Regions from separate parts of the Homo sapiens genome. Here regions 1 and 2 are each linked to region 3. The links come from fine-mapping of genetic effects on gene expression. A gene starts in region 3. Each other region holds a variant in brackets. All regions are shown on one strand. Distances are between the middles of the regions. Region 1 holds the start of SNORD153 (small nucleolar RNA, C/D box 153). Region 2 overlaps NCAPD3 (non-SMC condensin II complex subunit D3). Region 3 holds the start of NCAPD3 (non-SMC condensin II complex subunit D3).

Region 1 (10,650 bases), 75 kb after region 3:
TGCACTGCCTTTGAGGTTCTGGGAAAGCTGAATGTGTTTGTTTGACTCCCTTTTAGAGAAAATTGAAGGCCGGAGTCAAGGAAATGACATCTTATGTTTATCACTGCCTGATAAACCGTAAGTTTAGCAGTGTTCCTTTTGAGGTGGATGTTTCTGTCAGGGTTTTTCTGAGTTCCAGAATGACTGCACATGTCCTTTCCCTAGGCCCCCACAGCCTCAGCAGTGGAATGTGCGGTCTCCCGCCAGGAATAAAGACACTCCAGCCTGCAGCAGGAGGTCCCTCCGAAAGACCCCTCTGAAAACAGCCAACTAAACAGCGCCTCCCACCAGTGTCCAGGCAGGCAGGAGCCCTTGAGGAAGCAGTCTCGTGTCCTCCGTGTGAAGGCAGCTGGATCACTTCCCGCAGTCCTTGGGCAGCGCTTTGCTGTGGAACACGAGAGCTCCTCCTCAGGGGCCTGGCACTCACCTTCTATTCTGTATGATGTATTTGGTTAAACACTGTCAAATAATAGAGATGTGCCAGATTTAGATTTTCTTACCCTAATCTGTTTAATATTGTAACTTTATTCCATTTGAAAGTGTCAAGCCCATTCAGATAAGCTATAATCTGGTCTTTAAGGAACACAACTTTAAAACTGCAGCTTTCTTTTATATAAATCAAGCCTCTGTTAACTTGAATTCCTTATAGTACATATTTTCCCATCTGTAATGACGAAATTTTGATTCTAATATTTTTTCTATTATTTATAAGTGCAAATTTTTTAAAAAAGTGTACAGCTTTCTAAAAGTAATAAAGGTTTAGCATAAATACAGCCTTCCAGTAGTCAATAGGATTTTTCTGTTTTTAGAACAGAGCTCTTATTGGTAATCATTTTAATTTTACATAAAGCATGTTTGTTTGTTAGAGGAATGAAACCAAATCTTCCCTATTAGAAAAAAGATGATTGTCTTGAAGGGCAGTTCATCTGTGCCCAGGCAGAGGCGGTGTGCTTTCCCTAACAGACATGAACAGCATCCCTTCTTGGGAAAAAATGGCTTTGCAGCCTTCCCCAGAGCAGCACTGCCGATTTGTGCAGCCCTCTGTTAAGGGCTGCTCCCATGATGGGGGAACAGCTTGAGTCTCTTCTGTTAGCACTAGTGGGTAAACTGAATGCTATTTTTGTTCAACAATATCCAGAAAGAAATGCAGTTGGTTTGTTTTTTAATCCCAGTATTACAAAAGCAAAAGTACAAAGTGATGATGTGCGTTGGTTGGTTTGGGGGATGGGATGCCACTGAGATCTGCCCACTGCCATCCCAAGTGGGAACCGCAACACAGGTGGGCTCGGTGGCGGAGAGGCGCAGCACTGCTCTTGAGCACACAGGCTGACCTCCTGCCCAGCACTGACTTCCCTGGTGGATGGGTGATTGATAGCATTTTTAGTGTGCATGCCTAACCACTGAAATGCTAGGAAGAAGAGACAAACCCAACGTAAGAGCAAATAACAAAGAATGAAGCAATGTTTGGGTTTTTTTGAAGCTTTTATAAATGAGGTTAAACAAATGCCAAATTACGGTGTGTTAGTACAAGTCTGTAGCATCTGTGTACAGCAACATCCATCCAAAGGCAGAATCACAGCCTCGTATCGGCCTCGAGTCTTGAGTCACATTCATATCTTAAAATACACGAGTATTCCTTTTCCGTCTAGTCTCAGTTATAGGCAGCTACTTCCCAGACTCTACTTTCACTTCTCTCTACTTTTTCAGACCTGGTTCCCATGGCACTAGTGTAGAAGGTTTTAGGGTATAAGAAGAGGGGGCAATAAGGCTACCCTATCACTATGACAACCAAGAAGGAGGCTGGAGCGTGAATCCCCAACGCTGAGGGTGGGGAGCCATCCCTCTCTACCAAGGTGGCAATGATGGAGGGAACTTGCATGCTAAGCATCCAGGATGCCATGCAGCAGACACCAGGGAGCACTGAGCCACTGCTGGAGCATTTCCTGCCTCTGCCAGGCGGCCTGCGGCAAAGTGTTTCACATAACTAAAAAAAGTCAACACAGTCTCATGTATGCAATTAAAAAAAAGCTGTCAAAGTATAAAAAACCCAAGACACTGGAAGCTGAAAGACAAGGTGAGTAGTGAGAGCCATTCTCCAGGCACACAGTGGAGTGCTCCTTCTCAGCAGCTCCTTGCTTTACAGCACTTCAGTCCTGAGTCCAGCACGGCAGGGCATGTGAGGCTGAGAACACCTGCTCTTGAAGAACACAGGCTTCTGAGTGATGTTGCTAATGTCCCCCCACAAATGGGAGCAGTGTCTCCGGCGGATGAAAAATTTAAAGTCAAAATTAGAAAACTGCTTTTGATTCAGGCGTTTCACTTTCCTCCCCGCCAGGCCTTTCACCTGGCTGCTCCACCTGACGTTCTTTAAAAGGCTGGACTGGCCGCCACTCCATCATGGTTTGTTTTGAAATGCGACAGAGCCTGTGGCGTCTGGGTGCTTTCTCTGTGGCAAAGAGGAACAGTGGGATCCATTTTCTTTTAAAAATGTTATTGTACTTGACAGACTTGATTTCGCAATTGCCTTTGGCCTTAGACAATCTTAACAAATAATTAAACAAACTTAAAAAAAAAAAATAGCATTGGGGGCCCTATTTTGTGAGCCATCCATAACCAAAAAGAGGTCTGTTACAGGAGCCCAAAGCTGGGACGCTACATGGAAGACACCAGTGTCCCTGCAGTGCCCACCTGAGAGCTGTGCTGGATGAAGCAAGGGCCACGTGAGTAAAGCTCACTGGGACACAGCCACTGCCAGGGCCCAAGGATGGCAGGGCCTCCTGGCAGACAGCGAGGCAACAGTGAGCTAGAGCGGGGGCGCCTGGCGCAACCCCAGGAGCTGACTGGCATCTGTGTATGTACATCTGAGGGCTTCTGGGTGGCCTCTGGGTACAGACTGTCCTAGTCATCTCAGGAAGAGGCAGTTCAAAGCTAACCTGAGAGGTTTCTTTTGAAGAGATGCAAACTGATTTCAACATTGCTTAACTGGAATTTTTAAAGGTTTCCTAAGCAACTATGGTCTGATGTGTAGACAGTATGAGTTCCCTTGTGAAAAAGGCTAAAACTTGTGTGAGAAAAGGAACATCACAGTAAACTTCCATGAGAGGATTCCTTGGGTAAAATACTCTTAATTATTGATATTTTCCAATTTAACACTAGTAGCTTGGAACTTCTACCTTAAGTTGAACTTTTTTAAAAAAATAGGTTATTTAACATTGTATGACAATATATTTACAGTTTAAATAGAAATTTTCTTTTCAATAATCAAAATACATCCTTAGCAAAAATTTAGATGTAAAATTTTATAAAATAAACAAGACCCATAGAAAAGCATATTTCAGTACCATTTCAGACTTAGCCTAAGACGAAGGTTTTCCTTAAATCCTGACACCCTGTTGGACAAGCAGGGTTCCTCAGGCAAGATCCCTCTTCCAGCAACCAATTTACCTTCCTGATTTTGGTTGTTTTTACAAAATGCTGATCCAAAAAGCTTCTCCACAATGGACACTGCAACACCGATCAGCAGAGCCTTTAAGAAGAAACTGCGGTGGTGTCTGTGGGCCGATGAAGTAAGGCTGCTGTGTAAGAAGCCTTTTCTGGGTTCCCGCCGGGATGCGCTGCTGGTGCTGTCCAGCCACCTCGCCATCTCACATGGTGCTGTCGTGGCTGCTGAACGACCAGTGGTGAACATGCTGGCTTCACAGGGCCCAGCACGGGCGTTTACGTGAGCAAACTCTTTAAGATCACCCTAATACTCATGCGGGAATCAGGCCAGAAACAGATTAGGAACCCAACTCAGTGAACGCACCCAGTTTCGCTTCCTTGTGGTTATATTTACCGGGTCCATCTTGAGGAAAATTCTTCTATTCATGTGGCTTGTTAGAGTAAGAAGAGTAGTGGTCAACTTTGGCCAAAACGAAAAGCTTCTGAATGAGTGTCTAGCTCTGTCCGAGTGCATCAGCTCTCGCTGCCTTGACAGGAGTTTCTAGCAGAGGTATGTGCACGTGCGCTCTGTGCGCTCTCAGCCACACCGCGGGTCTCAGATCACAAACGATGACTTGTGTCTGAAGTCGCCCTGCAAAGCCAACACACAGTTAGAGCCATCAAGGGGCCTGGTGGCAAGCAGGGAAAAACACGGAGTAAGTCTAACATGGGCTAAATACAGATGGAATAATCATTCTTAAAAAGTACCATCACTAGCGCTTGCAAAGCACAAATCCCATTAGTGTGTGTGTGTGTGTGTGTGTGTGTGTGTGTGTGTGTGTTACTGTGAAGGGGCTGAGGAGCTCAGGAGCTGCACAATCACTCAGAAATCTTCCCAGGAGACCCGTGTGGTTTCCAAGGGGGAATGTTGTTTTCCCTGCTGGGTACACCTAGGTTTCCAGGTTTACTAAATGATTACCTCCTCGTCAGTGCGGATGTAGTTAACTCCATCTGGTTTCCCTGGGTTCTTGTAACTATGAGGAGAAGAGAGCAGTTTAGCAACAGGGTTGTTATATTATTGCCAGCTTGAACTTCCCTTTTTTCACATAAGGCAGGCTCACCTTTCTCCATCCTGTTTATTGTTGATGAAGTAGCCACGTCTGTATGCACAGCAGATGCCCAACGTGATCAGGGCCAGTACAGCAAGGACAACCAGAACCCCCCCAATAATTCCGCCAATGTTCAGGTCATCTGAAGAAAAGGAGGTTTGGTGGAAGCCATGATACACACTATCTGTTATTTAAAAAGGCCCTGGCCCTGCTGTGCCTCCTTCCTTCACCCCAAACCCACTTGCCCCCTGCCCCCTCAGGCCTACCCCAGCTAGAAGAGAGAACACTTACAATCCTTCTAGCCTAGAACATATAGGACACCATAACTCCTAACTTCACACGTGAAAAGTACTGAGACTTCTACAGTTGAAATGCAGTCGCACTGAAAAGTGTATTAAAGTGGGCTTGGCACTGTAGGCTTAAAAATCCTCTGGCTGAATGCCTGAGATTACTTATGGAGGAAATGGTTATGAGGACAAGATTAGGAGCCAGGATCCCAAGAAGAAAAGAATCCCTAATTTCCAGGGCCTCCCTTTGTTGCAGATTGCTGCGGGGAAGAAAGGTAGCTTCAAGCCTTAAAGAATCTGTCTCAAAAAACAAACAAGTAAAGAATCCTAGGTAAGAACTAGAGCTTTGTCTCTGCCGGCTGCCTGACCTCCGATCTATAAGCCCTCTGAGAGGAAACCCCCTGGAACCCTTTTCTCATGTCTATACACTGGGCAAAGGCACTGGGTCACTTTCATATGGGGCTCTGGCAGCCGTTCCTTCAAGCAAGCGACACATGGAAAACTATGCAGGGAATTTATCAACAAGAGCCAAGTAACTTGGAAGTTTTAAAAAAATCTCCTTTATCCTAGTGTATTGGTTCTCAAAGATGAATGTACACTTAAAAATCAACTTGCAGGCCGGGCGCGGTGGCTCACGCCTGTAATCCCAGCACTTTGGGAGGCCGAGGTGGGCAGATCACGAGGTCAG[A/GA]GATTCGAGACCATCCTGGCTAAGGTGGTGAAACCCCGTCTCTACTAGAAACACAAAAAATTGGCTGAGCGTGTTGGCAGGTGCCTGTAGTCCCAGCTACTCAGGAGGCTGAGGCAGGAGAAAGGTGTGAACCCGGGAGGCGGAGCTTGCAGTGAGCCGAGATTGTGCCACTGCACTCCAGCCTGGGTGACAGAGCGAGACTCCATCTCAAAAACAAAAAGTAAACTTGCAATCGTTTTTTTTTTTTTTTTTTTGAGACAGAGTCTTGCTCCGTCACCGTCACCCAGGCTGGAGTTCTGTGGTGCAATCTCGGCTCACTGCAAGCTCCGCCTCCCGGGTTCAAGGGATCCTTCTGCCTCAGCCTCCCAAGTTACTGGGACTACAGGCGCCTGCCACCACACCAGGCTAATTTTTGTATTTTTAGTAGACACAGAGTTTTGGCATGTTGGCCAGGCTGGTCTTGAACTCCTGACCTCAGGTGATCCACCCGCCTCAGCCTCCCAGAGTGCTAGGATTATAGTGTGAGCCACCACGCCTGGCATGCAATTTTGATGTTAAAATGTCAATTCCCAAGTTTCATCACTAAAAAGTCAATAGGCTAAAGTAGGTCTGGGGCAAAACTGCAGGAGAAAACAACCCTAGAGCAGAGTTTCTCAAACGTGACACATGAGAAGAATCCTTCGGAACGCTTGTCTCACACACAGACATTTCTAGCATATGTCTGAGGTGGGCTCGAATCTGTATGTGAAACAGTGGTCCCAAATGGGTATCACCAGGCAGTTTTGGAAAATGCTGCTCTGAGGAGAGCTCCAAATAGGGAGGAGGGAAGGATTCAAAAAATGCTCCTGGCTGGGCACAGTGGCTCATGCCTGTTAATCCCAGCACCTGGGGGAGGCCGAGGCAGGAGGATTGCTTGAGGCCAGGAGTTTGAGACCAGCCTGGGCAACACAGTGAGACCCCGTATCTACAAAAAATAAAATTAGCTGAGCATGGTGGTGTGTGCCTGTTGTTCCAGCTACTCAGGAGACTGAGGTGGGAGAATGGCTTGAAGGCTGGGTTTGAGGATGCAGTGACCTGTGACTGCACTCACTGCACTCCAGCCTGGGCAACAAAGCAAGACCCTGTGGTGTTTTTTGTTTTTTGTTTTTTAAGAAAAAAAAAAGCTCCCCAAGTGATTTGGACACATCCTCTCTGCCCCCACCCTCCTCTCAACGCCCCTCCATTAGGGGAACCAGAGCCCTGAGATAACATTACTCTAGGGGCTAAGCTTTGTCTGCAGGTAAAATTACTCGGGCTAAAACTGTCAGTTTTCTACAAGAGGGTTATAACTGGATAAATTTCTGGAGACCTGACACCACCTTACATTTTGATAATTCTATCAATTACCAAAGAATGGAGTTTACTAAACTTGCAGTGAAAGTTGCAAGGCTGGCCACGTTCCCAACACCAGCAGATCCCAGAAGGTTTTGTTTTGAGGACCTGCTTATCTGGACTCGGTTTTCTCAGCCTTCCCTTCACTGTGCAGTGGGTTCTGGTGGACCTAGGCAGCTCCAGAAGAAAGCTAACCCATGGCGGAAGAGTTCTCTAAGCTGATGGTATAATATTAAATTAAAATGTTCTATTCACTTCCCAGTCTTGCGATGAAACCTCTTCAAAAAAGAAACTCACAGACTTCCATCTCCTGCTCCTCACACCTGGCTGAGCCTGCGTCATTGGAAGCAATGCAGTAGTACTGCCCAGAGTCGTCCTTGTGAACAGCAGTGAACACCTGTTTCAGGGAATGACAAGTAAATAATCGGACCCATCATGGGGCCGATTTCTGAGAGCACAGCCAGCTGGGTCCAGAACTAGGTCGACACCTGCTCGCTTGCTTTCAGCTTCCCCAGCACTGTGCATGTTCCTCCCTGACCCACTCCCTGATACCTGCCTGACAGCTCCCCAACAACCAATCCCCTTGGGACTGGAGACACCAAAGCCTGGCAACATCCGAAATGGGAGGTGGAACCTTGCTTTTATTCTGGTAAAAGGGCTCTTCAATGATGACTGCTCCTGGGGCAACATTTTGGCAAAATGAACACAGAGGACCCTGTTAAAATCTGTCTGATGACTACGTGGAACTGGATGGTCCACAGATCAGAAGGTACCTCCCAGGAGAGAACCACATGCAGTAAAAGCCTGGTGTGGTTTGCTGGCCAGGTCACTTTGTCCTCTAGTGCATGACCAATCTGTTTCCTCTCCTCCCCCACCTCCCACCACCACCACTGGGTTATTTTGAAACAAATTCCAAACACCTTTTATCCATAAATACTTCAGTATCTCTACAAGACTGTAAAAAATCGTAACCACAATACCTTCATCATGCCTAAAGCAATGAACAGTTGCTTAATAGATCATCAAATACCACCTAGTAATCCAATTTCCCCGATTGTCTAATGACTTTTACAGTTGATTATCCGATCAGGGCCCTAGTAACATTTGCTTAATATCCCTCTTCGGTCTCAATCTATGGTTTCTTTCTCTTCCTTATTTTACCCCCTAAGAATGTACTTGTTTATAAAAGGAAGAAGGGTCATTTTTCCTGTAGAATCCCTAACATTCTAGATTTTTGACTCCTGTCTTATCAAGAAGTTTCAGTATCTCTCCTAATCTTCTTTTCACAATAAGCATCTCTTGCCCCAACAAAGACATCTCCATCCTCACCTCTTAGAAGAGATCTTACCAAAGTGCCTGTTTCAGAGTTTAAGTGGAAAGAAGAATTGCGAAATCTGGGATTGGCTCTGGAATCCGTGGGCAGTGGTACATCATTGCGATACCAGCTGTAGTGAGGCCGGGGGTGGCCCTCACTCTCCTGGCAGTGCAGTGTTGCCATCTTGCCTACTGGTACAGCCTTCGGCACTCTACAGACAGGGGTCACTGGCTTCACTGTGGGGAAAAAGGGGTGGTGTTTAAGATCTCAGTGACAGGGCTCTATTCTTATTAAAGCCCAGAAGAAATCAGCTCCAAAGACAAGACAGCCAGTCGAGGGGTTCCCACGCCACTGCTGTTCCCAGGATCACAACTGCAGACTGACAAGCCACCGCTGCATCCTGCCCTCCCATATGTTAAAGCGCCTCCTCTAGCTGGTGGAAGGAAGTGACAGGAACTTCACTTCCCTTCTCACCTTCTACCCCAACTCAGGCAGTCTCAGCTCTCAACAGTTCTCCCCTCCCTAAGCCATGTGAAGCCCTCAGGGATACAGTTCTAGAAGGAAAGAAACCAAGACACTAACTGATCTCTTGCATCCTATGGTGGCAATGTCTCACCTTCGCATGAGCTCCTACCTTGCACAGTTAACTCGATCACAATCTCATCAATTTCCTTGCGGTCATTTCGAGCAACGACCTCACAGCGATAAAGGGCTGAGTCTCTCCGTGTCACATTCCAGATCTTCAGGGATGTCTTCCCCAGTATTTCTGCACGACCCGCCAAGTCTCCTACAGAAAAGACACGAGGCACTAAAAAACTTCTTTAAAGAAATCTTTGCCACTTGAAGAGGGTGGTTTCTGGGGCTAGCACTAGATGCCACAGCAAGGAAGCCTGCAGATCAATATTTATTTCTATTCCCGAGTACAGAAGTGAACTCTCTTGAGGACAGGAACCATGACCTATTCCTATCTGTAACCTAAACACCAAAAATAGTTCCTGGTGTGCAAGACACACTCATTACCATGTGTCTCCGTCATTAAAACCAGGAACTTCACCTCCTCCTCCTCATTTCCAGGAAGGACCGCCCATGAATAGAAAAAAACACCACTAGAAAAACAACCAATGTTTCATAAATGATGCTGAGATAACTTGATATCCACTTGCAAACACATGAAGTTGAACCTCTCTCTCACTCCATATACAACAAAGACCTAACATAGGAGTTAAAACTATAAAACTCTTAGAAAAATGCATAAGCATAAATCCCTCATGACCTTGGATTGGGCAATGGTTTCTTAGATATGACACCAAAAGCACAAGCACACACTAAAAACAGTTACACCGGACTTCATCAAAATTCAAAGGACAAAGGCAGGTGAAAACAATCCACACAATGGGAGAAATACCTGCAAATCGTACATCCAACCTAGCATCCAGAATAAAGAATTCACACTTCAGTAAGAAATAGACAACCTAATTTAAAAACTGGACATAAGGGTGGGTGCAGTGGTGCACACATATAGTCTCAGCTACTCAGAAGGCTGAGGTGGGAGGATTATTTGAGCCTGGGAATTCATGTCCAGCCTGTGCAACACAGTGAGATCCTGTTTCTAGAAAAAAAAATATTTTTAAATGGACATAAAATTTGAACAGACATTTCTCCAAAGAAAATACACAAATAAGACCCTCAACATCATTAGTCACCAGGAAATGCAAATCAAATCCACAAGACGCCGCTTCCAACCCACTAAGATGGCTAGAACTTAACAAGTCAGACAATAACAAGTGTTGGTAAGGATGTGGGAAAATACACTGCTGGTAGGAGTGTAAAATCGTAAAGCAGCTTTGAAAAACACTCTGTCGGTTTTTTAAACAACTAAACATGCAACTACTGTAAGACTCAGCAGTTGTACTCTTGGTCATTTATCCCAGAGAAATGAAAACTTAGGTTCACACAAAAACCTGTAAACAAATACTGATAGCAGCATTACTGATAATAGCCAAAAAGTGGAAACAACCCAAATGTCCATCAATAGAATGGGTAAAATAATGTGGTATATCTACAATGGAACATTATTCAGCCGTGAAAAGAAATGAAGTACGGACACAGGCTACAACACAGATGAACCTTGAAAACAGGATGCTGAGTGAAAGACGTCAGCCATGGAAGACCACAGTTTCTATCCAGTGTCCAGAACAGGCAAATCCACAGAGACAGAAAGTGGAATCAGAGCTGCCAGGGATGCGGGAGGAGGACTGACTACTGCTGGGTACGGGCTTTCTCTGTGGGATGATGAAAATGTTCTGGAATTTGATAGTGGTGATGGTTGCACAACTGTGAGTATATTAAAAACCCCTGAACTGCACACTTTAAAAGGATGCGGTACGAATTACAGCTCCATAAAAAAACATTTTAAACATA
Region 2 (10,968 bases), 26 kb after region 3:
TGATTACATTACTGCTTTTATTATTCAGCCTAGAAGGTCAGCGTGAAATTGGGTTCAGGAGGCTAGATATTAGCATGTATTACTCCAATTCAGAGCGATAACTACATTTATAATAAACAGGTTTTCTAAATGTGGTAGGAAAATGTACTCTGGAAAAATGCTGAATGTTTGTGTTGGCTCCAGACTTCGTCTAAACAGGTTACGGATTTACGGTGGCACAGACTTTTTCAAGCAATATCAAGTTGAGGTGATTTAATGATGCTTAAAAATTATGAAAGTTCGGGGACGCAAAGAGCCCATGTTTCCAGTGCATTGTTCATAAGCTGAAAGGACATATATTGTTGGCATTAATTGTACATTAAAAATTTTGTATAGTCACTTAGATGCACTTTGCTCTCTTTGCTTTTTCTTATTAAGGCAGAGTTCACACACCATAAAGTTCACCATGGAAAGTGTATAATGTAGTTGTTTTAGTATAGTCACAAGATTGTACAGACTAATTCCAGAACATTCCATCAGCTGAAAAATAAACCCCATAGCCATTAGCAGTCACTCCCCATGCCCCTTTCCTCCTAACACTGGCAACCAGTAATTTTCTTTCCTTATAAAATTGCCTATTCTGGGCCAGGCGTGGTGGCTCACACCGGTAATCCTGGCACATTGGGAGGCCGAGACGGGAGGAGGATCACGAGGTCAGGAGATCGAGACCATCCTGGCCAACATGGTGAAACCCCGTCTCTACTAAAATACAAAAAATTAGCTGGGCGTGGTGGCACACACCTGTAGTCCCAGCTATGAGGAGGCAGAGGCAGGAGAATCGCTTGAACCCAGGAGGTGGAGGTTGCAGTGAGCCGAGATTGCGCCACCGCACTCCAGCCTGTTGACAGAGCGAGACTCTGTCCAAAAAAAAAAAAAAAAAATTGCCTATTCTGGACATTCCGCATAAATGCAGTCATGTACTGTGTTGTCTTTTGTGTCTGACTTCTTTCACCTATAGCGTGTTTTCAAGGCTCATTCATGTTATAGCATCTATCAGTACTTCATTCCTTTTTGTGCTGAGTAATAGTCAGTTATAAGGATACACCACATTTTGTTTATGCATTCATCAGTTGATGAACATTTGGGTTGTTTTCACTTTTTGGCTATTGTGACTAATGCTGCTGTAAGTATTCTTGTATGAGTTTTTGTATAGATGTGTGGTTTCATTCCCTCTGAGTGTATACCTAGGAGGAGAACTGCTGGGTCGTATGGTAACTCTATATTCAACATTTTGAGGAACCACCACACTTTTTCAAAGTGGCCACACCATTTTACAATCCTGCTAGCAACGTATGATAATCCTATTTCTCTGCATTCCTACCAACACTTGCCATGTCTGTCTTTTTTATTTTAGCCATCTTTGTGGGTATGAGGTGGTATCTGCTTGTGGTTTTGATTTACATTTCCCTAATGGCTAATGATGTTGAGTAAATTTTCATAGGCTTATTGGCCATATACATACGTTTTCTTTGGAGAAATGTCTATTCAAGCTCTTTGCCCATTTTTTAATTGGGTTATCTTTTATTTTTGAGTTGAAAGAGTTATTTTTATATATATACCTTATCAGATATATGATTTTTAAAGACTTGTCCCAGTCTGTGGGTTGTCTTTTCAAATGGTATTCTATGAGGCACAAAACATTTTAATTTTGATGAAGTCCAATTTATCTTTTTCTTTTTTTACTCATGCTTTTGGTATCACATAGCTAAGAAATCGTTGTGTAATCCAAAGTCACAAAGATTTACTCCTGTGTTTTCTTCTAAGGGTTTTATAGTTTTAGCTCTCACATTTAGGTCTTTGATCAATTTTCAGTTAATTTTTGAATATGGTGTGATATAGGGGGTCCACCTTCACTCCTTTGCATGTGACTATCCAGTTGACATAGCACTGTTTCTTTCAGCCTGTTCCTTCACCTGTGAGTGTCTTGGCACCCTTGTAAAAAAATCACTTGACTGACTTGTATAAGCTCATGAGCTTATTTGTGTGCTCTATATTCTATATTAATGGAATTTTATTTCATTAATCTATATATCTGTCTTTATGTACCACATTGTGTTGATTGCCGTTGCGTTCTAGCGTAGGAGAGGGGAAATAATTTTTTCTTCAGTCCTCATGAGTTCTTCCTCGGGATGGATCCCCATAACAAGACAAACAAGTTTATTAACATGTCTAGTGCGTGTTATGCGGGAGAGATCTCAATGCAAAGTAACTGAGGGCTTAGAACTCCACTTACGTAACACAAAACACCATATCCAAAAAATGCTGGCAGTACAGTACACTGGAGACTCTCTGTTGTCCCCTTTTGATGGGGTGGCTGACGGGGAGCTACTCTTGCTGCCCAGCATCGTGAGAGTGTATCATTCTGCATGTCACTAGCTAGGAAGTGAGCAGAATTCAAAACTCAAAGTATGGTTTGAATGTGCATTGCTGTCACATTATTGCAAAATCAGAAAATCCTAAGTCAGGGACTGCCTGTATGTGGGAGGAAAACAATGGAGTGAGTTTTGTGAATTGCTCTGGGCTGATAAGGGTCCAGAGACCCCGTGTGTAAAGGAGAATTTATATACTGCCCATATAAATAAAGAAAAGGGAAAGGATAGACAGAGCTTTTTCTCTGTTTGCTGCTGCTTGTTAATTGTCTGCTTTAACTGTCTTCCCAGAAATAATTTTTATGTCAGAGTCATATTTTGGTGTTAACATAGTATCCTGTGATAGTCAATTTTAAATCAGGAAGTATGAGTTCTCCTCCTGTCCCTTTGTTCTTTTTTAAAATTAGTTTGGCTATTCTGGGTCCCTTGTATTTCCATATGAATTTTAAGATTAATTGCCAATTTCTGCAAGAAAAAAAAAGCCATCTTGGATTTTGATAGGGATTGATCTGTACATCAGTTTGGGGAGTGTTGCCATGTTCGTTTGTTAATTCCTCTAATCCATGAACACCAGATGTCTTTTTATTTCTTTCGGTCTTTAATTTGTATCAGTGATGTTTTGTAGTTTTCAGTGAACCATTGTTGCTCTTTAAATTTTGTCCTGAGTGTTTTTATTCTTTTCAATAGTATTGCAAATTAAATTGCTCTCTTAATTTCATTTCTGAATTGTTCATTGCTAGTTTTTACAAATTATTTTTGATAATTGATCTTCTGTCCTGCAACCTTGCCAAACTCATTACGAGCTCTAATGATTGTTTTGTGGATTCCTTAGGATTTTCTTGATATAAGAACAAGTCATCTGTAAATAGAGGTAGTTCTACTTCTTCCTCTCCAATCTGGATATCTTTCATTTCTTTTTCTTACCTATTTGTTGACAGAAAGAGTCAAGCTCTGTAAAATATTTGAAGACATTTATTCTGAGCCAAATGTGAGTGACCATGGCCCGTGACACAGCCCTCAGGAGGTCCTGAGAACATGTGCCCAAGGTGGTTGGGTGCAGCTTGGTTTTATACACTTTAGGGAGGCATCAGACATCAATCAGATACGTTTAATAGATACATTGGTTTGGTCCCAAAAGGCAGGGACAAGGTGGGGAGGGTTCCAGCTTATAGGTAGATTTTAAATTTTTCTTGTTGAAAATTGGCTGAGTTTGTCTAAAGAACTGGGTTCAATAGGAAGGAATGTCTGGGTTAAGATAAAGGGTGGTGGAGACTAAAGTTCATTACTGCAGAGGAAGCCTTCAGATAGTAGGCTTCAGAGAGAATAGATTGTAAACGTTTCTTATCAGACTTAAAGACTGTGTTGATGTTAATGCTGGAGGGTATAATGAGGCATGTCTGACCCCCACATCCCGTCATGGTCTGAACCAGTCTTCAGGTTAAATTTTAGAGTGCCCTGGCTGAGGAGGAAGTCCATTCAGATGGTTGGAGAGCCTTAGAATTTTATTTTTGGTTTACAGTCTGTGGAATGATGTTGAAAAGAAGTCAAAGAGTAGACTTCTTTGTCTTTTTTCTTTACTTAGGGGGAAAGCTTTTGGTCTTCACCGCTGAGTACGACGTTAGCTGTGAGGTTTTTAGTATGACTTTCATCAATATGAGGAAGTTTCCTTCCATTTCAAGCTTGCTGAGTTTTTATCATGGAAAGGTGTTGGAATTTGCAAATGCTTTCTCTGCATCTATTTTGAGATGATTGTGTGGTTTTCTTTGTTCTGTTACCATGCTGTAATTTACATTGATTGATTTTTCACAGGTTGACATTTCATTCCTGGGATAAATCCCAAGCATGGTTGTATCTTGCTGGATTTGGTTTGCTGGTATTTTGTTGAGAATTTTGGTGTCATATTCATAAGGAATATTGGTCTGTTGTATTAAGCCATTCTTGCATTGCTATAAAGAAATACGTGGCCAGGC[G/A]TGGTGGCTCATGCTTGTAATCCCAGCACTTTGGGAGGCCAAGGCGGATGGATTACTTGAGGTCAGGAGTTCGAGACCAGTCTGGCCAACATGGTGAAACCCCATCTCTACCAAAAATACAAAAATTAGCTGGGCATGGTGGCAGGTGCCTGTAATCTCAGCTACTTAGGAGGCTGAGGCAGGAGAATCACTTGAACCTGGGAGGTAGAGGTTGCAGTGAGCCAATATCATGCGACTGCACTCCATCCTGGGCAGCAGAGTGAGACTCTGTCTCAAAAAAAAAAAAAAAAAAAAAGATGTGAGACTGGGTAATTTATCAGAAAAGAGATTTAATTGGTTCATGGTTCTGCAGGCTGTACAGAAAGTATAGCACTGGCATCTGTTTCTGGGGAGGCTTTAGGAAGCTTAGAATCATAGCAGAAAGCCAAAAGGGAACAGGCGTTTCACATGGTGGGAGCAGGAGAAAGAGTCAGGGGGAAGGTGCCACACACTTTTAAATGACCAGATCTCACAAGAACTCACTCAGTATTGCTGTCCTGAAGACAGCACCAAGCTGCGAGGGATCTGCCACAGTGATCCAAACACCCCTACCAGGCCCCGCCTCCAGCACTGGGTGTTACAGTTCAACATGAGGTTTGGGTGGGGACAAATACTCAAACTATATCCGTTGTTTTCTTGAGATGTTTTGGTTTTGCTATCAGGGTAGTACTCACCTAAGATGAGCTGGAAAGTGTATTCTTTTCTATTTTTTGAAAGAGTTCATGAAGGATTGTTGTTCATTTTTGCTTTAACATTTGTTAGAATTCTCCACTAAGTGTCTGGTCCTTAGGAAGGGGTGTGTGTGTATGTGTGTGTGTAAAGTATTTTTGATTACTAATTTAGTTTCTTTTTCTTTCTTTTCTTTTCTTTTTTTTTTTTTTTTTGAGATGGAGTTTCGCTGTTGTTGTCCAGGCTGGAGTGCAATGGCACAGTCTTGGCTCACTGCAACCTCTGCCTCCCAGCTCAAGCAAATCTCCTGCCTCAGCCTCCTGAGTATCTGGGACTACAAGCACCCGCCCCCACACCCGGCAAATTTTTTTGTATTTTTTGTAGAGATAGGGTTTCACCATGTTGGTCAGGCTGGTCTTGAACTCCTGACCTCAGGTGATCCACCCACCTCGGCCTCCCAAAGAGCTGGCATTACAGGCGTGAGCCACCGCGCCTGGCCACTAATTTAGTTTCTTTACTCGTTACAGGTATATTCAGATTTTCTATTTCTGTTTGAGTCAGTTTCTGTAGTTTGTGTCTTTCTAAAACTTGTCGTTCTAAAAATTTGTTTCTTTTATGTAGGCTACTTAATTTGTTGGCATAAAATTGTTCATAGTATTCCTTTGTAATCCTTTTTATTTATGTAAGGCTAATAGTAGTAATGTCCCTCCTTTCTTGATTTTAGCAATTTCAATTTTCTTTCTTATTTTCTTCGCCAGTCTAGCTAAAGGTGTATTAGTTTTGTTGATCTTATCAAGGAACCTACTTTTAGTTTCATTGATTTTTCTCTATTGTTTTCCATCTTTTATTTTTTAAGCTGCCTTCTTATATATAAGCAGTTCCCAAAGTGTGTTTTGGGAACCCTCAGGGGTCCTTGAAGTAAAAATGAGTGCAGTGTTCATTTGCCTTCCACACTCTGATTTCCTCACGAATGTATATTGGAGTTTTCCAGTGGTCCCATGACTTATCAAATTGCAACAGATTGCAGGTAGAAACAGAGATGAGAATCCTGTTTAATATAAGCCAGATGAGAGATAAGCTGGCTTATATTAAGCCAGACATTTTAAAGTTTGCAAAACTCTAAAACAATGCCATTCTTTTTTTTTAAAATCGGGTCTTGGTGTGTTGCCCAGGCTGGACTCGAACTCCTGGGCTCAGTTGATCCTCTGATCTCAGTCTCCCCAGTAGCTGGGATTATAGGCACATTCCACCACATCCAGCCTTTTCACTATTTTTAGTTTATTTGTTTTGGAAAATATAGTTATTTTTTATGAAAAAGTACTAACAGTAACATATCTTGCTCTTTTAAAATGAATTAATAAATATTTTTACAATTCTCAGTTTAAATTTCTGATTCTAAGTATTAAAAGATATAATCTCTTTAGGGTCCTCAGTAATTTTTAAGAATATAAAGAAGCCTCAAGGCTGGGCGTGGTAGCTCACTCCTATAATTTCACTGCTTTGGGAGGCTGAGTTGGGAGGATCACTTGAGGCTAGGAGTTCGAGACCAGCCTGAGCAACACAGCAAGGTCCTGTCTCTACAGAAAAATAAAAAAAAATTAGCATGGTGGCTCATGCCTGTATTCCTAGCTACTTGGGAGGCTGAGGAGAGAGGATTACTTGAGCCCAGGAATTTGAGATTGCGGTGAGCTATGATTGTACCACTGTACACCACCCTGGGTGACAGAATGAGACCCCTGTCTCTTATAAAAAAATGTCTTCAAGTCAAACATTTTAAAGCTGCTGTTATATATTACCTCATCAAATCTTTAAAATAATCCTATGGGTTAGATACTCCTATTTGTAGCTAAACAAAATGGAAGAGATAAATAATTCATTCACAATTTTAGAGGTAGGGGCTGAGATTTAAAACCAAATTTTTAATATTCCAAAGTTTATATGCATTACAGTGAATACCTAATTATTCACATTTTCTTCTTTTTCCACACTCTCATTTCTTAGGATTTAAAACAAGCTAATGAGTCTTTAAGATGAGTGTATTTTCTGGGTATTGTGTGGTGAAATGTTAGCTGCTGTGTGACTTTTCTCCAGCTGTGATGACCCTTTGGTATTCCCTCTACAGAAAGATGTGTCATGGCAATGCTGAGAAGGAGGATCAGGGATGAGAAGACCAACGTTAGGAAGTCTGCACTGCAGGTGGGAGTTTTCTCTGCACATTTTTTTTTTTAAGCACTAAAAACTTGGAAATGCAAAGGAATATTTTTTAAACTCTTAGGCCATATTCATTACTTAATTTGCTTTTCGCCTAACTGTTAGTTGACCCTGATCCTGTTGTATATGAATCATAGACGAACTGGAAGATTTTTTATTTTTAAGCTTTCCTACAGGGTTTCTGATTTTTTTAAGAACCACAAATTTATATCCTGAATTTGTTTAGAATAGGGATTCTTAACCTAGGGACCATGGGTGGATTTTAATAGGTTCATAAAATAGTTTGTAAATATTTGTTTATATAAAATTTGTTTTTCTCTGAGAGAGGCCTTAGCAAATTGGATTCTGAAAAATGGGATGTTGTGAGGAGGAAGGTTGGATCCATGACCCCAAAATGTTAAGAACCACAAACTTAAAGGAAGTGTTCCTTTGTTAACAGTTTATCTTTGTGAGTTGATGCTATGCAGTTAACAGTTCATGTTGCGTCTATGCCTTCTAGGTATTAGTGAGTATTTTGAAACACTGTGATGTCTCAGGCATGAAGGAAGACCTGTGGATTCTGCAGGACCAGTGTCGGGACCCTGCAGTGTCTGTCCGGAAGCAGGCCCTCCAGTCTCTTACTGAACTCCTTATGGTGAGAGGCAGGACATTATATATGTAATGCATGGTATTTTACATTAAAAGTAATTCCACACAATAATTACCTGCTGCTAAACGTTAAGTTGACCTTTAAAAACTCTACTAAGTCCACTGTAGAACTGTACAATGTAAGGGAGGAGGTATTTTTGAATTATGTGTGATAGACTGTGCTTCCTATTAAACATAATTAGGAACTAATGCTAGAGAATGCCAATTGTTAGCCCTTTCTTCACTTTATTGTTATTATTATTATTTTTGAGACAGAGTCCTGCTCTGTTTCTCAGGCTTAGAGTGCAGTGGCACAATCTCAGCTCACTGCAACTTCTGCCTCTCAGGTTCAAGCAACTCTCCTGCCTCAGCCTCCTGTGTAGCTGGGACTACAGGCAGGTGCTGCCATGCCTGGCTAATTTTTGTATTTTTAGTAGAGACAGGGTTTCACTATGTTGGCCAGGCTGGTCTTGAACTCCTGACCTCAGGTGACCCGCCTGCCTTGGCCTCCCAAAGTGCTGGGATTACAGGCATGAGTGACTGCACCCGGCCCTTTTCTTCACTTTAAATCTCACACAGAAAAATAAAATTTAAAATTGATTTGGTTAAGCTAGAGGCCTAGATTAAATTTAGTCAATTAGGGCATAGATAGATGATATTGCCAAAAAAGCAGACTCACAAGTACTATATTTAATTTACTTTTGTTTACTAGTTAGCATTTTAGTCAAAGAATTTTAGAAGTATGTTTATTTCTTTATTTCATAATAGAAGGCATTAAGCAATGCATATTTTGACTTTTTCTGTCAGCATCTGTTCTAATTGCTCTTTGGGATATTTATTATTTGCTCTTGATTTTTAATGACCAAAAAAGTACTGATTTACTAGTAGCTACTAGTAAAATAGTGACTTTAATGTATGAGTTTAAAATTTTGGTTTGCAGTGATTTACATTAAGCTGGCTTTGCTTTTGTATATTTTTTGAATTTTTTTCTTTTTTCACTCTATGGTCTATTTGCAGTTGAAGGTGTGATTATTTTTAACATCTCAAAATGTTGATCACAACTTCCCTGACTTGTATTTAGACCTTCTCATGTCATAATCTTTCACTCCTAAGGCTCAGCCTAGATGCGTGCAGATCCAGAAAGCCTGGTTGCGGGGGGTGGTCCCGGTGGTGATGGACTGCGAGAGCACTGTGCAGGAGAAGGCCCTGGAGTTCCTGGACCAGCTGCTGCTGCAGAACATCCGGCATCACAGTCATTTTCACTCTGGGGACGACAGCCAGGTCCTCGCCTGGGCGCTTCTTACTCTCCTCACCACCGAAAGCCAGGAACTGAGGTAGGTTAACTGTATGACCTGTGTTCCCTATAGAAGAAGGCCGTAGGACTTTGTATTAATAAATTTCTCCTATTGGTCCTCGAAAAATCAGCTTTCCAGATTACTTAGTGTATGTGAAGATTAAGTATTGGTCTCTCTTTCCCTGACTGACTTCCAATCTCTTAGATATTTTTATCGCCTGTATGTTTGTGACACCTGTTTGGTCACTTCCTTTGCATCTGTCTGACGCTTTCCAGTTTCAGATTTTGGTGTCTTCATATGTAGTAGACAACACTGATGGAGATACATATTAATATCACCTTTCCCCAATACTGGTTATCACGAAGGATGACTTCCTAGCTCCTGCAAGTTAAACTGTTTTTAACACCTCATTGGATTAATTGACTTAACTAACACTGCAGGCTTTTTCCCCTTTGATAACACTTATTGAACATACACTGTACAGTGAATATTGTAGTTAGGAGTTAGGATCTGTGATGGAGGAATCATCATGCGGTAGAAAGAAAATAGATTTAGTATCAAAAAATACCATTCTGCAGCCTTGGCAAAAATCACTTTCTCTGAGCCTTAGTTTCCTGATTTGTAAGAGCAGCCGTTGTACTCTAGGATCTCTTCATGGTTTTCTCAGTACAGGTTGAGCATCCGTAATCCAAAAATCTAAAATCCAAACATGCTCTGGAAGCTGAAACTTTCTGAATGTCAGCATGATGCCACAAGTGGAAAATCTCACACCTGACCGCATGAGACGGGTCACAGTGAGAATGCAGGCTCACAGCATACAGTCTGTTCAGCATCCGCAGGCGAAAAATAAAATCACCTTCCGGCTGTGCATACAAGGTGTATATGAGACTTTGGTTCCATCCCCAAGATATCTCATTAAGTATATGCAGATATTCCAGAATCCAAAACACTTCTGGTCCCAAGCATTTCAGATGAGTGATACTCAACCTCTACCCACCCTATGCTTTCCTGAGATTTCTAGAATGGAGAGATTTAGCTAATAATAGAGTCTACTGCTTTTTCACTTTTCTTAGAGATACCTCCTTATGCATGCTCTATGTATTAATTCATGTTAATGTAATGAAAGGTAGTAGTCATTCTTTGCAAAAAAGCAGGAGAGGCCTTCTACAGCTCCTGAGAAGCTGTTGGGAGGTTTTAAAATTTATTTTTCTTTATAAAAACTTTTGTATTGAAGTATAGCATGTCTAGAAAAGTACACAAACCATAAGGTCAGTAAATATCACAAAGAGAGTATGCCTGTGTAACCACCATGCAATCTCTGTTTATCATTGTAGGTGATAGCCACCTCTGCCCAAGTTGGCTAATACTTGAAAAAAAGTGGCCCAGAACTCACGTGCTGCACATTTTCTGAAATTACTCTTGACTTCTGATTTCATGGCAACTCTTCTTATTTTCCAGTGTTGCTTAAAATTTTGTCTTATTTTTGGTATTCATTTATTTCAGAGGTCTTTAAGGAGACATTAAAACAAACAAACAAACATGGGCTCATTATTAAACCTGGAATCAGGTTGTGGATGAAACTGCTTAAGGAGATTATAAAATGAGTAAGAAAAAATGCAAGTTTAGAAGAGGAACCTTGCAGAAGATGTGCATTGAAGGCTTCAGCAGAGGAAGATAGCCATGTCAAAAGAATTCAGAAGTATGGAGAAGTAGAGGAATAACTAGGAGAAAATTATTCAAATGGAAACA
Region 3 (9,520 bases):
CAACACTAATTATTATTATGGAGCCAAAGAATCAATGCAATAACTTTAAAACTGCTACTAAAAAATACCTTGCTCAATAGGCAAGGATTTCTCGACTATTTACTATGCGTAGCATAATATGCTTTGGACTCATCCTGTTTATCCTGGGGTTCTTTGCTAGAGATGATTTTACCCTCCAGAGGATATACAGCAATATCTGAAGACATTTTTGTGGTCGCAAGTGGGGGATGCTACTGTTGTCTGGTCAGTAGAGGCTGGGAATGCTGCTAAACATCCCATGACAACATGCCAAACGATGCCAGACATCACAGTGCTGCTACTGAGGAACCTTGCCATCTACCCCACCATTGAACCCAGAAGCAGGAAAGCAGAAGGCATGGAACTCACTCTTCGGCCCCTTTTCTGGTACACTAAGACCTTTCATATTCTGGCTTTAAAATAACAACAAAGAGCTTCCTGTAAGATCAGCCAGTCTTCAACCTGATTTCATGTTCTTAAATACCAGAGGCAAAATGCTTGAGGCTGAGCAGTGAACCCAAGAGCCAGGCCACAAGGCCTCCTTTTCCCAGGGTTTCTCCTACCTGTGTCTCCGTGTTTCCTGCCTCTGTGAAAAAAAGACGGCAAATTCTTTGCTAAACTCTCAGGATAAGAGAGTTTAACAAAGATTCCCCAAGGAAGTCTCTAAAAACAGAGTTATGTATGCAGTGTGTGGTATCGGTATGGATTCTCTACCAGAGGTGTGTAGCTCACAGGGTATTTACTGTGATTCTACTCCTAACCTAACGACAAAAACAACTTATTTTAAAAGTACCCAAGCATTTTAATAATACACAAGAGTCTAAATAAGGCTTAGAATTGGAGACGACCCAGTCTTGACTGGGAGCTCCCCAAATCACTTTACCATTACTGCCTTTTACTGTCTAGTTCTTATTTGTTTATTTGTTTATTTTTTTGAGACAGGGTCTTGCTGGTTGTCACCCAGGCTGGAGTGCTGTGGTGTTATCACAGCTCACTGCTGCCTGGAACTCCTGGGTTCAAACAATCCTCCCATCTTAGCCCCCCGAGGAGCTAGGACTACCGGCAAGCACCACCACGACCAGCTAATTACAAAAAAATTTTTGGGGGTAGAGGCAGGTCTTGCTATATTGCCCAGGCTGGTCTCCAACTCCTGGCCTCAAGCAATCCTCCCACTTCAGCCTCTCAAAGTGCTGGGATTGTAGGCATCAGCCACTGTGCCTGGCGCTGTCTAGTTCCAATGATTAATAATCATGTTTAAAGCATTGAGAAACTCTGATCACTTAATTGTGGTTTTTAGAAACACCATTTCTTTGTCTTTAAACAGAAAATGTGGTAACTGAAAACTTGCATTCTAATAAAGAAGTCTAAGAAACGCAGCCTAGGTAGTCAGATTTAGACTGAAGATTATGGGTCTTCTTTCTGGAAACATGTACAAGCATAGGTAGTTCAGGGCTGAGGTGAGGTAAGAGAGAACTGGTTAGCTCTCTCACACCACATCTAAAGAGAAAAACGGGTTGGTGCGGGCTCTGGGAAGTGGGGCTCGGTGGACGAGCCTCACTTTGCGTCTGGCAGTTGCAGATGGCCGGGCGATGGGAAAGCCAGTATTGGCAGAGCGGTCTCCCCCTAACAAACCCACCTGCAGGCTATGGCCAGAGCACCTCACCCAGAAATCCTGGGGACAAGAAGCAAAGCCGAGTGCATGCCGGAGACAATGGGGAGAACCCATAGGCAAGGTGCCCATCCCACGAGGCACAGCAGGGCGCTTCCTCCCGCCCTCGCCGTCCCCATCTCCCTGGCAGCGCGCTGTCACTTTTGGCAGGGAGGACAGTAACGCAGGGGGAGTCGCCCACGGGCGGGACTTGTAGCTGAACCCCAGGCCTCAGACTGCAGTTGACAAGCGACTGTGACAGGCCTCGCCGGAGGAGCTGGGCCCTGAATCACCCTGCTCCCCGGCCGGCTGTCGGCGCTGGGGGAGGGGGTCCCGGGGGTCGACTCACCGATCTGCCCGATGAACTCGATCTTGATGCCCTGGTGCTCCAGCCGCTTGTTGGGGTTCTTGAGGGCAAGGCTCACCTTCCCGGAGACCGTCTCCCCGTCGTAGAAGAGGAAATATTTCTCCTTCTTCCCGTCCTCCGTCTTGTGCTCGGCCCGCTTCCTACTCTCTGCATCGTTCAGAAGGATTTCCACCTCCACGCTCTGCCCGAAGCCGAAGAAGCTCATCGCACCGCCGGGCCGGGCGGGTCTCGGTAAGGACCGCTCCCTCGCACCGGGGCGCGGGCTGCCCTAGGTAAAGAAGGCCAGAGGGCCCGATGCGCGAGCGCGCTCGGCCGCCGCGGGGCTGCCTGGCTCCGCCGCTGCCGCCGGGCAGTGGGCGCCGACGGACAGCCGGCTCCACGGGGGAGGGGCACGGCCGGGGGAGGCTGGCGGCTGCGGGCTGCGGCGCCCGAGCAGCAATGCACCGAGGAGCAGTGCCCTCGGCCGAGCCAGTCCCAGCCAGTCCCGCGGCCGGTGGCAGTGGGCGGGCGAGGGTCGGCCGTGCAATGCTGCGGGGGGCAGCCGCACAGAGCCGGGTGTGGGTGGCCTGCGCCTGCCGGGTGGGGTCCAGCGCCGAGCAGCGCTGCGAGCTGCCCAGCCTCCGGCGGTGCAACGCACCGAGGCGCTTCGGCGGCTCCGGGCGGGGGAGGGGGCGGGCGAGCTCCAGCCCGGATGCGCTGGAGCAGCGGCGCGCAGGCGCACCCCCTAACGCTCCTGGGACTCCCGGCAGCCCGGAGGAGAGCTCGCTGCGCATGCGCAGGGAGAGCGCGGCCGGCGCTCCAGCGGTCGGCATGGCAGCTGCTACCTCGCTGGGACAGGCTCTGGGCCCACGCGTGCCGCGCAGTCCCTACAGAACTGCAGTTGTCTTGTCTTCTCGGAGTGCTTTCGGCTACTTTTCCCTTATTACTTTAGCTCGATACACGTTGGGCTGCCTTTCACATTCGGATATTACGCTGTTCGAGTGCTGACGGGAAAGGCAGCCCTTTGACACGCACGCGAAATGTCGCCTGACGAGGGCAAAGGTGACAGTTACTACCGGAAGTACCCTATCTCAGATACCCTTTAGATTTTCCCCCATTGAAGAAAAACGAGGCGGGAAAAACGCTGTTAGGGTTTAACTCAGGCCCTGGCTCCTTCTCGAACGAATTAGCGGAACACCCGCAGGAGCCTTGTTTGGCTTCCACTTTTCGGCCCGCCCAGTTCTCTGAGCGTGCGGCGGACGACGCCGGTGATTGGTTGAGCGAATGGAAACGGCTCGGCGCGGTGGTTGGCCAGTGGGAAATTCTGTACGTTGTGATTGGTCCACAGGAACGACTCGGCGCGCGCGCGGGAGCGAGCTTTGAAAGTTGAGCACGGCGGCGGCGAGCCGGTGCCCTGGGATCATGGTGGCGTTGCGGGGCCTTGGTAGCGGCCTGCAGCCCTGGTGTCCGCTGGATCTTAGACTCGGTGAGCAGATGCAGCCGGGAGGCCCGGGGGCCAGGGCGAGGGTCCTATGCGTCCCCGACGATGCCTAAGCCCGGGCCGGGGTGCCGGTGGGGGCGGGGTGGGGGCGCCCGGCTGTCGGCGGTGCCTGGGGTCCCCAGGGCCGTGCCACGCCAGGATTGCGGCTAGCCAGGTTTCCCGTGGGGGCTCAAGCCGGCCAGGCCACCCTTAGAATAAGCGAATGTTGGCCAGTCTCTTCTAGCGCCTGTGCATCTGTTTTCTCGGCCTTCCCCTTCTTCCTGTGCGTGTCTTCGTGCACCTATCTATTCTTACCTATTAAGATGGTTTTAAATTGCAAATCTCTTTCTTCCGCCAGACTTATTTCTTGAACTTCATGTTCATAGGTTCCACTGGATGTCTCACATGCAGACATCATCAAACGTCACATGAGTGAAAATGGGATTCCCAAAGCCTGCTAATGGCACCATCCAAGCCACCAACCCAGGAGTCATGGCATTTCTGCTTCCCCTTTCATGCCCACTACCACTGTCCTGCCTCTGAGGTGTCTCAGGGCAGCCCCGCTCCATTCCTGATGCTGCTGCCTTCATCATAGCCTCGAGCAATTGCAGGAGTATTTTAGCTGCTTTCTGATGTTAACTGTGCCAGCCCATCCCCCACACTTTTGCAGAACGACTTTTGAAAACACAGCTTTGAATGTGTCAAGCCTGTACACCTTTAATGTTTCCCCTTTGTTTCCTAAATAAATGACCACATCCTTGGCATGCTTTATAAGAGCTGCCATTCTCTCCAGTTTGATTTTCCAAGAGCATAACCTTTGGAGTCGGACACACTTGGATTGTTCCCTTGGCTCTACCCCATAGCATCCATGTATTACCGTGCAGGTTGTTTATCCTTGCTAAACCCCTGTTTTCTGATCTGTCAAATGGGGAGTACAATATCTACCTCACAGGGGTTTTTGTAAAGATAAATTTGTACTTGCCACATAATAACTGCTGAACAGATACTAATACCCACAAGCAAACACTGTAACAATTTTGTTCATTTAGAAACACTTTAATTTCTTTCCCTTTGTGTGCTTTGTTACACTGTGCTTGCTGGGAGGCACTTTTCTGCATTTATTTGCCTGGCAAAACTCTTACATTCAGGTCCAATTGAAGAATCATCTTATTCCTCTCCCTCCTCCCCCAGTACTATTCCCTATTAAGCTCTGTAGCATTTTACATTTTACATATCTATTATTTTAACACTCATCCATAGCAAAAATAATAAATACCATCTATTGACTGTTTTTTATGTGGCTAGCACATTGTTAGGGCCTTTATACACATTATGTTTCACAAAAATCCTGTATTTCCAATGATGAAGGAGAGACTAATTATGTGTAAGTGATCAAGTCAGGATATTTGCCTCGTTCTGACTCAAAATTCAGTGGCCTCTCTTCTATCATAGGCTGCTTTTTTTGGTATCCTAAGTGTGAAATGTTGAGATCTTTGTGGACAAGAACCCTCTAGTATTCATCTTTATATCCCTAGAAGTATAAGTGGCTTCCCTAGTATTTTCTCAAAGTGTTTGTTGAGTGAATAGGTGATGTATTTCTTCCTCTTCTTCCATCCTAAGTGAAGTAGCAGAGCAGAAGTTACCTGCATTCGACAGCTGAGAAAATAGGTAGTGAGAGATTTGAATAGTGTAAAGATACTGAGGGAAAAAGACTAACTCAGTGTCTCCTATACTCTCACTCAACAATCAACACTGAAGACTTCTGTGACCAAATGGTAGATAACAGGGCCAGTTACTGCCATCCAAATTAGATTTGATGGTATTTACAGTAGGGAACTGTCATAAGCAAAACCAAAAGAAGGAGTGAGATAACTTTTGCTGTGGTCTATAATGACCTTTAAAACATTACTGGAAATTTGGAAAGAAACAATTGTATTTTTCAGATCTTCTTTCAGGCAGCATATTCCATGTCTTTGGAAGGAATGCTGTGCATAGCCACTTAGGGTACAGAGACCCCCTCCTTCAGGGTCAAGTTCAAGTGACAAAAGATGATGACCAGATTGTATTCTAAGGATGGAACTAGTTGAGTGTAAGGCCTTTCATTTTCATTTGCCGAGTGCAGTGTAATGCTCCCATCTCTGTTTTTTCCTTATTTATACCTTGCCCAACTTCTCTAAATCAGTGGTGAACAAATACTTTTAATATTAATTTGAAGGAACACCTGATTAATAATTTGAGATGTCCACATTTCCATCTAGTCCTAATTTTAGTTTGGGAAAGTGACAATGACAACACTGAAGAAATATAGTGTATTAGAAAAGAATGGGAAGGGGGGATGGAGGGATAGGGGAGGGATACCATTAGGAGAAATACCTAATGTAGATGACGGGTTGATGGGTACAGCAAACCACCATGGTACGTGTATACCTATGTAACAAACCTGCATGTTGTGCACATGTACCCAAAAACTTTAAGTTAAAAAAAAAAGTTTATCCAAAAAAAAAAGAAAAAGAAAAGAATGGGAAGATTTAGAGTTAAGAGAGATTGGTGGAATCCAGCCAGCGTGCTGTCTTAATACCCCTCCTCTCAATGTACATTCTTTCAATCAGTGTGTTTTAAAGTCACCAAGTATTCCTGGGAGTCTGAATCTGGGTTGCCTCTTCTATTTTAAACTTCCTGGAGAAATTATATATGTTTTTTAAATGCTACATGATTGTCCAAGGGCCCAATAAAGTGCTCTATATTTTATTTCCACTTATTAACTTGGTTATGATATTTTCACAAAGGAACCTCGTGGGCAATCTGATTAACCTCTGTTTCTTCTCTAGATTGAACATGTGGGAAAGCCTGATCACTGAATGTTTTGAAGTGTCCTTTCCCAAAACTCTTGTATCTGAAAAGTATTTCCTCCTTTATATTTTTAGAAGATGATTAGCTTAATAGTCAGTGTCAGTTGTGATTTAAGATTCTCTTAACCTTTTCTGGTTTTCTTTTATTATGCTACACCTATGTTATTAAAACAAGTTAAATGTGAATCGTGACTAGTAAACTTTTCTCCTCTTGAACACACCTGGAATCTAAAGGTGACTAGTTTTTTTACTTGTTACAGAGTACTTACACATTTCATTGCATTTTCCCCTAGAATGGGTTGACACAGTGTGGGAACTGGATTTCACAGAGACTGAGCCTTTGGATCCCAGCATAGAAGCAGAGATCATAGAGACTGGATTGGCTGCATTCACAAAACTCTATGAAAGCCTTTTACCCTTTGCTACTGGAGAACATGGATCTATGGAGGTAAAAATATAAAAACAAACTAGCCAAAGTTTGGTGTTAGAAGTAGAAGATGAAAGTCATTATTATAATCTGAAGCTTAGCTTTCTTGGTGTACAGTTCACAGGGAGTACAATATGAGTAACATAAAGAATGTGGTTAATTTATTGGAATATCCTAAGAGCTTTCCTCCAAAAGCTTCAAGGTACTTGTCTGATTTTTTTTTTTTAAGACACGACTGTTTTTTACAATAGCAAATTAAAGGAAAAGTATAAGGCCGGGTGTGGTGTCTTACGTCTGTAATCCCAGCACTTTGAGAGGCTGAGGCTGGCCAGTTGCTTGAGCTCAGGAGTTTGAGACTAGCCTGGGCAACATGGCAAAACCCCATCTCAGAAGGAAAAAAAAAAAGGAAAAATATAAAGGCAAAAACAAGAAAACTAGACCAAGGAAAATGCAAATAACAATTCAGACATGCCTTAACCTTAACTTTAAGAAAATCTGCGACCAGGCATGGTGGCTCATGCCTGTAATCCCAGTACTTTGGGAGGCCGAGGTGGGTGGATCACGAAGTCAGGAGTTCAAGACCAGCCTGACCAAGATGGTGAAACCCCATCTCTACTAAAAATACAAAAATTAGCCGGTTGTGGTGGCGGGCTTCTGTAATCCCAGCTACTCGAGAGGCTGGGGCAGATAATTGCTTGAACCCAGGAGGCGGAGGTTACAGTGAGCCGAGATCACGCCACTGCACTCCAGCCTGGGCGACAGAGCAAGACTCTGTCTCACAAAAAAAGAAAATCTGATATTATTAAACTGAGGAATGACTAGTTGAATTAACAGGTTTGTCCAAACAGTTCCTGTAAATATTGAGTTCTATCCAATGCATAGAAATATAAATTATTATTAATATTTAGGTTGTTAGTTTTCAAAAAAAACCAAAGGGTTGGGAAACAGAACAAAAGCTAATTGGATATTAACATCTCTGAAACATTTAAATGAACAAAAAAAAATTCACTTCCAAGTTTCACATCACAAAATTAAATCATCTAATTAAACATTCCTTCAGCATAACACTAAGCACTGCCTTAAGTACCTGAGTTGACAGAGTGGGGATTACGATACAATCTCCCTAGGTTGAGGTCCTCCCCAGGGACCTCAGGGAGGAAGAGTGGACATTTGAACACTAGCCAAAGTAGGTCTAGCAGCCACATGCAGTTGCAGGGGGTGGAGAGTTCAGTGCCACTGTGCATTTGGGCGCCTGGAAATATTCTACGAACCACACTGTGAAAAATGCTCCAAGAGAGGTGCGGATTTGTTGCATAGGGTGTGAAAAAGGGAGCATGGTAGGGTTGGGAAAGTTCCAGAAAGAAAGTGGCCAGCAGCGAATCTTCACAGATGACTAGCAGAAGCTTGGGTTGTAAGGCAGTCCTAGTGAAGGAGCCACCCAATGGGAACACGCAGGAAGTGTCAAGAGGCATACAGAAAAAGTGTGGTGGAACGGGATGGTAAGGTAGAGTAAGGGTAGGTCACGGGTAGCTTTACGTGAGGTTCAGCAGTGGAGTTTGAACATGTTTGGTAGAGTGTGTATGAGGTTTTGTTCTAAGCGTCCTGCATGTATTAACTCATTTAATCCTCAAGCAGCCTGTGTGAAAGAGGTTACAGTGGGCAATAGATAGGTAACATGAATAGATCTGTTTTAAGCAGACGTTCTTGACAGTAGGTGGACTGAAGTGGGAAAAATTGTGTGCAGGGAGAGCCCTTGGGAGACTGTATTGGTGATCCAGGTGTTATGAGTAATAATGGCATGATCCGGAGTTACAATTTTGGGAACTGGAAAGGAAGACTAAAAACTAGGGACATTTTTGGAATTAGAATTAATAGGGCCTTGTGAACTAGGAAGCCCTTTTGAGATATCTTAAAAACATGGTGTGAAGTGCTAAACTGACTGGGCATAGGGAATTAGAAAAAGAAAGAAGTCAGTGATCCCCAGGGTTTCAAAACTAGGAAGATGATGATATTGTTAACCAAGGTGGGGAATAAGGGAAAAAGAGCAAGGTCAAATGGAGAAACAGTTCTGTTTAGACTTCTGAACTTGAGATTCTGTCAGGAGATCCTTGGGAAGTTTAACAGGTAGTAGAAATGTGAGACCAGGAGAGAGAAGAGAGTTCTTTAAATTGAGGTATGGGTTGAAGCACAGTGATGCATGAGATCACCGAGGGTGAGAAGCAGCCAGGACAGAAATGGAGAGCTGATTGGACGGGGTCTGCAGAGGAGCAGTCACATGTAGGGAGTGCAGGGTCACTGACGCCCAGACTAGACAGCAGCCATGGGATCACATGGGGCCAAGGTGACCCCATATGCAGAGCCCTGGTGAGCAGATGGTTTAGGGTGATCGATCACCCTCGTGTGTGAAGTGGAGGTGCAGGTGGCATTAGGAATGAGGATGTGACACTGTAAAGTTAGGAGATGATTTCTTCCCCCCCCCCCCTTTTTTTTTTTTGAGACCAGGGTCTTGCTCTGTCACCCAGGCTGGAATGCAGTGGCACAGTCAAAGCTTACTGCAGCCTCAACTTATTGGGCTCACATGAGCCTCCCACCTCACCCTCCTGAGTAGCTGGGACTACAGGTGTGTGCCACCACGCCCAGCTAATTTTTTATTTTTTGTGGAGACAAGGTCTTGCTTTGTTGCCCTGGCTGTTCTCAAACTCCTGGGCTCAAGCAGTCCTCCTGCCCTGGCCTCTCAAAGTGCTGGGATTAC

Evidence for each region. PIP is the estimated chance that this variant, and not a neighbour inherited with it, causes the effect. A credible set is the group of variants that fine-mapping cannot tell apart.
Region 1: its variant is the best candidate, but not a certain one, in a credible set for the expression of NCAPD3 in monocytes (BLUEPRINT, PIP 0.83).
Region 2: its variant is the best candidate, but not a certain one, in a credible set for the expression of NCAPD3 in whole blood (INTERVAL, PIP 0.62).

Annotation. Positions count from the first base shown.
Region 1 is chr11:134,142,607-134,153,256 of GRCh38, reverse strand. It overlaps JAM3 (junctional adhesion molecule 3), which reads right to left. Exons shown (of 9, transcript NM_032801.5): 4 at 8,864-9,016; 5 at 8,263-8,465; 6 at 7,212-7,311; 7 at 4,581-4,710; 8 at 4,439-4,493; 9 at 1,256-4,111. The coding sequence ends at 4,076. NCAPD3 (non-SMC condensin II complex subunit D3) reads left to right here. Exons shown (of 35, transcript NM_015261.3): 34 at 57-117; 35 at 205-3,144. The coding sequence ends at 313. SNORD153 (small nucleolar RNA, C/D box 153) reads left to right here and starts at 1,894; the gene lies at 1,894-1,969. The variant A/GA (reference allele first, on the strand shown) is at 5,544.
Region 2 is chr11:134,190,979-134,201,946 of GRCh38, reverse strand. NCAPD3 (non-SMC condensin II complex subunit D3) reads left to right here. Exons shown (of 35, transcript NM_015261.3): 14 at 7,209-7,282; 15 at 7,797-7,931; 16 at 9,038-9,258. Among named protein-coding and RNA genes, the nearest start is that of NCAPD3, 28 kb to the left of the region's middle. RefSeq lists a silencer at 3,657-3,857. The variant G/A (reference allele first, on the strand shown) is at 4,379.
Region 3 is chr11:134,217,841-134,227,360 of GRCh38, reverse strand. It overlaps NCAPD3 (non-SMC condensin II complex subunit D3), which reads left to right and starts at 3,394. Exons shown (of 35, transcript NM_015261.3): 1 at 3,394-3,498; 2 at 6,635-6,789. The coding sequence starts at 3,435. VPS26B (VPS26 retromer complex component B) reads right to left here and starts at 2,690. Exons shown (of 6, transcript NM_052875.5): 1 at 2,016-2,690. The coding sequence starts at 2,238. RefSeq lists enhancers at 1,804-1,953, 2,054-2,113, 2,904-2,953 and a silencer at 2,314-2,783.